Regions from separate parts of the Homo sapiens genome. Here region 2 is linked to region 1. Evidence: fine-mapped expression QTL. A gene starts in region 1. The other region holds a variant in brackets. All regions are shown on one strand. Distances are between the middles of the regions. Region 1 holds the start of PUF60 (poly(U) binding splicing factor 60). Region 2 overlaps PLEC (plectin).

Region 1 (5,358 bases):
AAGTGAAAAGATGCATCCAGAAGACCTACCCTTGCTGCAAAGAGGCAGCCGGCCTCATTCTGCAGCCACCAGGCAGAAGGCATGCCCATGGGAGGGGAGGCCCTTCTGCATCTTCTGGCTTCCTTCCCCACCAGGCCACTGTCAGCCAAGTTCAGCTGCTCCATTCAACCTCCCATGAGAGCTGAAGCAGCATGAGACAGGGGACAGGCTCTCATCACTGTGCCCAACCAGGACGGTGGGAACAGATAACCCTTCTAGAAGCCTTTCCATCCCAATGATTAAAAGAGGAATGGGTTAGACCACAGGCTACAGCTCACTCCTGGAGCCGGATGCAAGCCTGAAACCTGACGATAAAAAAACACGTATTAAACCCAACAGAATTTGGATGGCAACAAACACCCCAACAGACAACCCGTTCGTGGGGTCAGTTATGGCCCACGTCCAACTCAACAATGACACCACCTATCTGGCACCACGCCACAGCAGACCTGAGCCCCCATTTAACCCTCATGAGCACAGGGCGCTGTTCTGCGGGTGCTAGGGGAGTCAGGCATCCACTCTCCTCCTCCACCTTCCCATGTCCAGTCCTTGTCTCTGAGCCTCCTCCTCCTTCACCATCAACTCTCTGACTGCTGCCTGAAGACAGTCACCAGGTCCTCAACCCTTACATCCTTTCTCTCTGGAGTGCCCCTCAAAGGTCACTTACTCCTGTGGCTTCAAGAGAAAGGACATAGTAGAAAGAGTGGAGTTAGCCAGTCCTGTGAATCACACACTGGGCTGCCCTCGCAAGCTGGGTATCTTGTGTAAATGCCTCTCTCCCCCTAGTAACTGGTTTCTGCCTCAGTGGGACATGGGACCAGCCCGCCCGCTGGGGGCCTGGCAATGGCAGTCTAAGGACACTCCCTGGTCCTGCCAGTCCAGCCTTCAGCCATTTGCCCAAGCTGTCTTCTCAAACAGACCTTATCCCATCCCGCTGGGTGTGGGCTGGGGGAAGGGTGACAAGTAATACAGGGGTAAACTGCGGCTGAGAAAGGTCCAAAAGGGGATTAGGTCCTATAAGCTAAGTGGTGAGAAGGAAAGACCAGACTTCATCGTGCATGTGTTGTGTGCATGGGTGTTCTCCCTCTACGTTAATAACGCCTGCCCTGCCCGGGGAAGTGGGCACTGAGCAGAGCAGGGGGCGACTCACTCCTCTGGATGCCCACGCAGCTCCCTAGGGCGCCCAGCAAATGGCACCCTGGGTGGGAACTGGCTTCTGGTGCGCACTAGACCTCCAACTGCCTGTCTGGTTCCCCACTGCGTCCCCAGATCCTCCCGCAGAGCTGGGGACAATGCGATTTCTCAAAACACGTAGGATGAGAGCGCACGTCCTTCCTTTCCACGTGGAGACAAGAGAATGGAGATAACCAGATCCCTCTCCAGCACCGGAGAACGAATTCACAGCTGCAGGCGTAGTGAGCCAAGGCCGCCCCATGCTCTGAGCTGCAGGCCCCTTTCTACAGGTCCCGTCCCCTTCTGATCCCATCAACCCGAAGGCCCACGCGTCACCCCCAGAACCCCGCTTCCGTCGTGACCACGGCGCACACCCCCGTCGGCAAAGGGAGGACGACGACCCCCGCTTGCCGGACCTAGCGGACAGGAACGCAACCCCGCCAGGCTCGCCCGCAAGGGCCACACGCCGCGCCCAGGCCCCCGCCCCGCCCCGCCGGAAGCTGGGGTCCGCAGGCCGGAAGCTGAGGCCGCGAGCCGGCCGCCGGCGCGCGCCCGCCCCGCCCCCGCCTCACGCGACCCGGGGACACGAGGGAGTCCGCGCGGGACCTGGGAAGACCGCCGCGTTCTTGGGAGGCCCTCCGCGCCCAGGCTGGGTCGACGACCCGGCCCCGCAAGCCGAGGGCCGCCCGCGCTCATGGGGGGGCTCACTTACGAGAGCTATGGTCGCCGTCGCCATCTTGCGTCCGTCGCGGCCTCCGCGCGCGCCTCCCACTCTTGCTCCTTCCGCTGTCTCGCGCGATCTGGGTGCCGGTGCACGGAACTCTCGCGAGGAAGGAGGTAAGAACGCGCTTCCGGGGCGGGGAGGAACGGTAAACGCCCCCGGGAGGGGCGACGGAAGGGGCGTGCTCTTGGCCGGGCGAGGGGCGTGGCCCGCGCACCTCGGGCGTCTAGGGGCGTGCGCCGCGGGACTCGAGTCGGGCGTATCTCTCCGCGTGGCCGACGCGGGCGTGCGTAGTACCCTTCGCCGCCCGTCGCCCTTGCGGCCACTGCTACGCTTCTCTTCTCTGCCTTTTTTGGAGAAAACGCTGTCGCGTGCGTCGTCCAGAGGCTCTCCCCCAGGAGGCAGGCGAAAGAGCGGGGCCCTCCTGGGCTGGAGGAGTCTCGGGTGATGAAAGGCCCGCGTGTTTCAGGCTGACGTCGTGAGATGCGTCGTCCCCGCGTCGCGACATCCCTGGGACCGGGAGGCCCCGTTCAATTGGCAGCTTTTTCTCCTTCCAGGGAACCGATGACCCTAGGTTGGCTGACATCAGTCGCTAGACCCGCAGCCCGCAGGCCCCGTTAGTCCCTGAACTGGCTTTCATGGCCCAAGGTGTCTGTCAGTACTGCTGGGAAAGCTGCCTGTCCTGGACATTTGCCATCTGCTGCACCCAGTCCCGAGACCCCAACTCGGTCATCCGAAGAAGCCACATCTGTAAGCTCAGGCACCTTCAGCTGCCTAAGGCCACAAGGCATCCCGGGCAGGCCTCCTTTCAACCCTGGGAACATTTAGAATTTAATACAGACACTTCTACTTAAATAGGGCAGAATATTCCCCGCCTCCCTCCTGAAACCTTCCAAAATTATAGGAAAGGGGTTTTATAAAGACAAACCCTGCAAGGGCAAAGAGCTGGGATATTGCAGAGCTTAAGAAAGGTGGACAGCGAGAGCTACTCCAGCCCACTTGGCTATGGAGGCCAGTGTCTGAGGGTCGTGGGTGAAAGCACAGCTACAGAAAGGAAACCCCAGACCTCTGTCCCTACCCACCGGGGCTGGCAGGCACTGCAGTGTCTGAGACGTGAGCTCCAGGAGAGGAGCTCTGAGGCCCTGCTCAAGCAAGGCCCTGTCTGAAAGCCTGGGAGTAAGTGAGACTCTGGGTCCTACCCCTGCCTCCACCCCTGGGCTGGGTCTGACCACCCGCATGCCATCAGGCTTCTCAGAGAAGAGGGCTCCTCTCTGCAGCAGCTCCTAGCTCAAAAGAAAAGACTGGCAGGGCACCTAGGGGTAGAGTGTTGCCCAGTAGAATGGCCCAGCCAGATCCCTGGCCTCGAAGCTCACCAGGTCATAAGCCCCAGCCACTAAAAGCATCTCACTCTTCAATGCAGCTGGACAGCCCAGGATCACCAGACACCTGAGAAAGAAGAAAAGGGACTCAGAAGAAACAGAGACGATAAAGGAAGCCGAAGAAAAATGAAAACTAAAATGCCATTCTCAGTCAATAAAAAGGAACTGGGGGCTATAGAGAAAGAAACCTCGGGATGAGAAAGAGCTCTTAGAAATAAAACATGAGGGGAAAGTGAGCAATTCAATAGGCTTTTAAGATGAAGTCTTCCAGAATGTATAATGACAGAACCAGATAGCTGGAAAACAGAATAGCAGTAACACAGGTGGGTGCTCTTAGGGCTAGCCTGGCACACAAGGCCTCCACAATGGAGGGGGTGGATGGGAGGTGGGGGGCTGGTCTGCCACCACCACCAGGGGAAGCCACAGGCACCACCCTCTGGGGACAGCTTCCCTTGGCAATAATGTGCACGCAGGATGCATGGTGCCCAGGACTGTTCTTACACACATTCATTCATGGGATCCTCACAACCCAGTGCTATGCAATGGATACAGCTGTTACCCCATTTTTACTGATGGGCAACATCACAAGGCAGGGAGCAGCAGTAGAATGGCTCCAGAGCCTGTGTTCTTGCCACCACCATGACTGCATCTCAAAAGAGAAGTCCAGGTCAGGCACAGTGGCTCATGCCTGCCTTCCCAGCACTTCAGGAGGCTGAGGCAGGAGTATCACTTGGGCCCAGGGGTTCAAGACCAGCTTGGGCAATATAGTGAGGCCACGTCTCTACAAAAAGTAATTTTAAAAAACCAGCTGGGCATGGTGGCACACGCCTGTAGTCCTAGCTACTAGAGAGGCTAAGGTGGGAGGATTGCTGGAGCCCAGAAGGTGGAGGTTGCAGTGCCCTGTGATCACACCACTGCACTCCAGCCTGGGTGACAGAGCCAGACCCTGTCTCAAAAAAACAACAAAAACTCAACAGAAGTCCAACATCTAAATAAATTGTCCAGAAAATAAGGAAATGAGAGAAATCAGCAGAGATAAATCAAGAAAATTTCCTAGAACCAAACAGTCATGTTTTCTGAACAATGGGTGAAAGGGAAGTTGTATATCAAGACACATCATTGAGAATTACCCAAGTAATGGGGCAAAGAAAAAGAAGAGATCATAGGTAAAGAGTCAGAATTCAGGAAGGCACAAGAGTTCTTGGAACTAGAAGAAAATGACACAATACCCTTGAAATCCTGGGAATAAATGATTTTCAACCAAGCCAAGCTTTTTGTAGCTAGTCGCACTGTTAAGCATATGTGAGGTTAGCATAAAGACTGTGGGGAAAAGCAAGAGAGATCAGATTGTTACTGTGTCTGTGTAGAAAGTAGTAGACATAGGAGACTCCATTTTGTTTTGTACTAAGGAAAATTCTTCTGCCTTGAGACTCTGTTAATCTATGACCTTACCCCCAACCCCGTGCTCTCTGAAACATGTGCTGTGTCAACTCAGAGTTGAATGGATTAAGGGCGGTGCAAGATGTGCTTTGTTAAACAGATGCTTGAAGGCAGCATGCTCCTTAAGAGTCATCACCACTCCCTAATCTCAAGTACCCAGGGACACAAAAACTGCGGAAGGCCGCAGGGACCTCTGCCTAGGAAAGCCAGGTATTGTCCAAGGTTTCTCCCCATGTGATAGTCTGAAATATGGCCTCGTGGGATGGGAAAGACCTGACCGTCCCCCAGCCCGACACCCGTAAAGGGTCTGTGCTGAGGAGGATTAGTAAAAGAGGAAGGAATGCCTCTTGCAGTTGAGACAAGAGGAAGGCATCTGTCTCCTGCCCGTCCCTGGGCAATGGAATGTCTCCATATAAAACCTGATTGCATGCTCCATCTACTGAGATAGGGAAAAACCGCCTTAGGGCTGGAGGTGGGACCTGCGGGCAGCAATACTGCTTTGTAAAGCATTGAGATGTTTATGTGTATGCATATCTAAAAGCACAGCACTTAATCGTTTACATTGTCTATGATGCAAAGACCTTTGTTCACGTGTTTGTCTGCTGA
Region 2 (5,358 bases), 92 kb after region 1:
CTCAGTGTACACCTGCGTGGTCTCCACCACCTCAGCCTTCTCCGCCCCTTTCAGTGGCAGAAGGCGCAAGCCCGTCTCGGGGTCCTCCACGCACCGCTCCAGCAGCTGCCTGTACGTGAGGTTCTCATGCGTGTTGGGGTCAAAGAAGCCCTTGGTGTCGTCGCTGGGGTCCGCCAGGACGCGGTTCATCTCCTCACTGAAGTAGCCGCGCTGGTAGGCCACGTCCACAGGCACGCGGTGGCTGTGCACGGGGTCGATGATGCCGCCCGTGGCGATCTGGGCCTCCAGCAGGCGGATGCCGTGCTGCCGGAGAACCAGGCCCTTCTGCATGGCCTGGAAGAGGGAGATGGTGCTGCCCGAGTAGGGGTCTCTGTAGCCGGTGACGGCCTTCTCGGCAGACAGCAGCTGCTCGTGAAGCTCGGGGCCCACCACGCCCGCCTTCACGGCCTCGTGGACATACAGGCGCTGGTTCCGCACGGGGTCCACCAGGAAGCCAGTGGCCGCCTGCGCCTCCAGCAGGAGCGCAGCCGTTGTGGCTCTCAGCAGGCCCCGGCGCATGGCCTCGTAGATGGACACCTTCTCCTTGGTGTCCTCCAGGTAGATGCCGGCGAGGCAGCCACTGCCCTGCAGCAGCGTCCGCACGGAGCCCAGCTCCGAAAGGTCCTTGACCGTCGTCTTGCCGTCCTTGAGCTGCTCAAACTGGGCTCTGCTGAGGACCCCGGAAGCCAGGAGCTCGCTGGCTGGCACAGGGGCACGGAGGCCGCTGAAGGACAGCCTCTCCTGCCGCAGGGTCTCCACCTCCTCCACGATGGTAATGAGAATCTTGATGACCTTCTCCACGGTGACCTTGCCCGTGCGGAACTGACGCAACAGCTCCTGCCGCTGCTCCGCAGTGAAGTACTCAGAGCTGATGAGCTCCCACACCGTCACCGTCCTGCCCTTGAAGCCACCCACGGGGACCTCAACCGGGGTCTTTTCAAAGGTCTCACGGGCCTGCAGCTCTGAGTAGAGCTCCTCCTGCCGGGCCCGAGCAGCCTTTTCTGAGAGCGGCAGCAGGCTCAGCCCGGTCAGCTGGTCGGGCCGGCACCGCTGCTGGAGCTCGCCGTAGGTGGCCGGCTCCCCTGTGCTGGGGTCACTGTAGGCCTTGGCGTCGGCCCTTGGTGCCGACAGGGCCCTGCTGGTCTCCTCATCCAGGCAGCCTCGGGCGCAGGCGACATCCAGGGGCACGCGGTGGCTCTTGCTGGGGTCCACGATGCCGCCCGTGGACAGCTGGGCGTCCAACAGGCGCAGGCCCTGCTCCCGGGGAATGAGGCCCTTCTTCAGGGCCTGGAACAGGGAGACGCTCTGCCCTGTGTAGGGGTCCCTGTACCCTGTCACAGCCTTCTCGGCTGATAGCAGCTTCTCATGAAACTCGGGGCCCACCAGGCCAGCACGCACTGCCTCGTCCACGGTCAGCCGGGCGCTGGTGGCGGGGTCGATGATGTGCCCGGTGCCGGCCTGGGCTTCCAACAGGGCCACGGCCATGTCGGATGGCAGCAGGTCTTTCTTCAGGGCATTGTAGATACTCAGCTTCTGCCCCGCCTCCTCCAGCCATACACCCGCGATGACGTTGGCACCCCGGAGAGCCCGCCGCACAGTGTCCACCTCGGCTACGTCTCGCACAGAGCGCTCACCTCGCTGCAGCTGCTGGTAGAGCTCGCGGTCGATGACCCTGCTCTCCAGCAGCTCGGCGGCTGGCACCAGGCTGCGCAGGCCCTCAAAGCAAAGCCGGCCCTTCTGCTCCTGCTCCTCCACCACCGTGATGATGATCTTGATGATCTTCTCCACTGTGATCCGGCCCGTGCGGAACTGCCGCAGCAGGTCCCGCCGCTGCTCTGCCGTGAAGTATTCCGAGTTGATGATCTCCCAAATGGTCACCGTCTTGCCCTGGAACTTGCCGAACGGCGCAGACACGGTGGCCTTCTCAAAGACGTCCCGGGCCTCGGAGTCAGTGTAGACCAGCTCCCCGCCCTTGGCAGCCTTATCCGTGAGTGGCAGAAGGCACAGGCCCGTCTCGGGGTCCTCCACGCAGCGCTCCAGTAGCTGCAGGTACGTGAGGTTCTCGTGCGTGTTGGGGTCAAAGAAGCCCTTGGTGTCGTCGCTGGGGTCCGCCAGGACGCGGTTCATCTCCTCGTCGAAGTAGCCGCGCCGGTAGGCCACGTCCACGGGCACGCGGTGGCTGTGCACGGGGTCGATAACGCCGCCCGTGGCGATCTGGGCCTCCAGCAGGCGGATGCCGTGCTCCCGGACGATGAGGCCCTTCTGCATGGCTTGGAAGAGAGAGATCTGCTGGCCAGTGTAGGGGTCCTTGTAGCCAGTGACGGCGCGCTCGGCCGACAGCAGCTTGTGGTGCAGCTCGGGGCCCACCACACCCTCCTTCACAGCCTCGTTGACGGTCAGCCGCCGGTTCCGCACAGGGTCCAGCAGGAAGCCTGAGGCCGCCTGCGCCTCCAGCAGGATGAGGGCCGTGCCGGGACTCAGCAGCTGCCTCTGCAGGGCGGCGTAAACACTCAGCTTCTCATTGGTGGCCTTCAGCAACAGCCCTGCGATACTGCTGCGGCCCTGCAGGTAGTGGCGCACGTCTTCCCGCC[G/A]TGCGAGCTCGTCCACCGTGGTGTGGCCCTGCGCCAACCGCTGCAGCTCCTCCGCACTCAGGATGCCGGCCTCCTGCAGCCTCTGAGCTGACACCTTCCGCCGCAGGCCATCGAAGCTGTGCTCCGGCTCTGCCTCTGCCGCGGGGCCATCAAGTGCATCCCGGCCATTGGGCAGGGTCTTTGTGGCAGCCACCTGCGAGGCAGTGACCTCCTCTGAGTGCGCCAGCGCGGCCCGGTGCTGCTCCTCCAGGAGCTGCAGCTGCTCACGCAGCCTCTGGTTCTCCTCAGCCAGCAGCTCCTCCTGCTGCCGCCGCTGCTGCTCCAGCTGCTGCAGCTCCTCCTGCTTGCGCCGCACGCCCTCCTCGGCCTCATGCTGCCGCCGCCGCGCCTCCTCCATGCTGGCCACCAGCCGCTGCCGTTCCTGCTCCATCTGCTGCTGCTGCCGCTGCTGCTCCTCACGCAGCTGCTGTGCCTTGGCCACCTCGTCCTGGAAGAGCTGCTCCAGCTTGGCCTTCTCCTGCTCGATGAAGCGCTCCCGCTGTAGCAGGCTGTCCTTTTCAGAGAGGAAGCTTTGCTGCAGGGCCTGCGTCTCCTGCAGCAGCTGCTCCTGCTGCACCGTCTGCATCTGCAGAAGAAGAGGGTGTGATCAGGGACCGCCAGCCCAGGAGCACCCATCACCCACCAAAGCAGATCCCCGGGCCCACCCGCCCGTCGCACGTAGAGGGGGCGGTACCTCCTCAGACTTGAGCTGCAGCAGTTTGGCCTCCTGTTGGAGCTTCTCCTTCTCACGCTCCAGCTCAGCGATGGCCTCCCGCAGGCGCTCGGCATCATGGTCACTCTGCTGTCGCTGGATCTCCAGTGTCTGCACCAGGGTCACCTTCTCCTGGGTGGCGAGCTCCGTGCGGTGCAGCTTCTCACCGATCTCCTCCGCCTGCTTCCGGAAGCGCTGGGCGTCCTCCTCAGCGCGGGCCTGGGCTCGGCTCATCTCGGCCACACGCAGCTTGAGGCGCTCAGCCTCAGCGCTCATCTCCAGCTGCCGCTGCCGCTCGGCCTCCAGCGTCCGCTGGAAGCCCTGCGTCTCCTCCGCCAGCTGCTGCGCCATCTGCTCCTTGTCCTCCTGCAGCCGCCGCGCCTGCTCCTGCGCAAGCTCCTTCTGCTGCTGCAGCAGTTCCGCCTCAGCCTTGAGTCGCGTGGCCTCCTGCACCGCCTGCATCTTCTCCTTGAGCATCTTCTCTGCCAAGGCCCGCTGCTGTGCCAGGTCCTCCTCTGCCAGCTGCCGCAGTCGCGCAGCCTCTTGGGCCGCCACACTCAGCCGCGCGGCCTCCTCCGCCACCTGCTTCATCTTCTCAGCCTCCTCCTGCAGGAAGCGCTGCGTATTGTCCTTGTCACGCAAGATGAGTGCGCGGTTCTCAGCCTCGATGCGTGCCTTGAGCTTGCTCAGCTCCTCCATCTGCACGCGCACCGAGAAGAGCTCCTCCTCCACCTGGCTGCGCTGGCGTGCGGCCTCCGTGGCCTCCGCCTTCAGCCGCTGCAGCTCCTCGTCCAGCAGGTTCTTCTGGTGGTCGGTCTCCTCCAGCTGCAGCCGCAGTGTTGTCAGCTCCTGCTCCACCTGCGCCTTCTGCCGCAGCGTCTGCTCGGCGAATTTCTTATGCTTCTCCATCTCCGCGTCAGCTGCCTGCTTCTGCCGCAGGGCCGCCTGCTCCGCCTGTGCCCGCCGCGCCGCCTCTTGCTCGGCCTCCTTGCGCAGCTTCTCTGCAGCCGCCTGTGCCTGAGCCCGGGCCTGTGCCTGCTCCTCTGCCGACTGCTTCAGCCGCTCGGCCTCTTCCACCTGCCGCCGGGACTGCGCCGCCTCACGCTCCGCCTGCACCCGGGCCTCCTCCGCCTCCTCAGCCGCCCGCCGGGCCGCCTCCGCCTCGCCGCGCAGCTGGTCCAGCACGCTCTGCTCCTGCTGCAGCGTCTGCTGTAGCTCCTGCTCCTTCTGCTGCACCGCGAAGGCGTGTGCCTTCTCTTCCGCCTGCAGCCGCTTCTGGGCGGCCTCCTGGGCCAGCTGCAGCTGCCGCGCCGACTCCTGCTCCGCTCGCTCCCGCAGGCGCCGCGCCTCCTCCACCTTGGCTTTCAGCCGCTCGACTTCCTCCAGCGCCGCCTTCCGCTGCCGTGCGGCCTCCTCCTCGGCCGCCAGGCTCTTCTGCACGCGCTCCTCAGCCTCACGGCGCCGCCGCTCCTCCTCCGCCGCCAGCTGCCGCTGCCTCGCAGCCTCCAGCTCGGCCTGCTCCTTGCTGCGCAGCGTGTCCTCCGCGTTGCTGCGGATGCGTCCCAGCTCCAGCTCCAGCTCCGCCTTGCCAGCGGCCGCCTTCTCGAAGCTCGCCTTCAGCGCCAGGATCTCCTCCTCCACCTGCCGCCGCTGCCTCAGCGTGTCCTCCACCAGCCCCTTCTGCCGCTCCAGCTCGCTGTCCGATGCCTTGCGCAGCTGGGCCAGGCGCTCCTCGATGTCAGCCTTGTGTTGCGCGGCCTGCTCCTCCAGCCGCCGCCGCTGGAAGGCCTCGTCCTCCGCCAGCCGCCGCAGGCGCTCGTTCTCCGCCTCCTTCTCCTTGAGCGCGATCTCCGCCTCCGTCTTGAGCCGCGTGGCCTCGCCGATGGCGGCCAGCTTCTCCGCAAGCACCCGCTCCGCCTCGGCCCGCTGCCGCGCCGCGTCTTCCTCGGCCAGCTGCCGCTGCCGCTTGGCCTCTTC

The links. PIP is the estimated chance that this variant, and not a neighbour inherited with it, causes the effect.
Region 2: its variant is fine-mapped to the expression of PUF60 in whole blood (TOPMed, PIP 0.97).

Annotation. Positions count from the first base shown.
Region 1 is chr8:143,827,356-143,832,713 of GRCh38, forward strand. PUF60 (poly(U) binding splicing factor 60) reads right to left here and starts at 1,960. Exons shown (of 12, transcript NM_078480.3): 1 at 1,925-1,960. The coding sequence starts at 1,948. It overlaps LOC107986985 (a long non-coding RNA gene), which reads left to right and starts at 1,925. Exons shown (of 3, transcript XR_001746138.2): 1 at 1,925-2,049; 2 at 2,491-2,683; 3 at 3,354-4,576. It also overlaps a transcript of NRBP2 not described here. RefSeq lists a silencer at 1,678-2,247 and enhancers at 2,032-2,731, 2,052-3,251.
Region 2 is chr8:143,919,141-143,924,498 of GRCh38, forward strand. PLEC (plectin) reads right to left here. Exons shown (of 32, transcript NM_201384.3): 31 at 3,364-5,358; 32 at 1-3,255. Among named protein-coding and RNA genes, the nearest start is that of PLEC, 18 kb to the right of the region's middle. The variant G/A (reference allele first, on the strand shown) is at 2,631.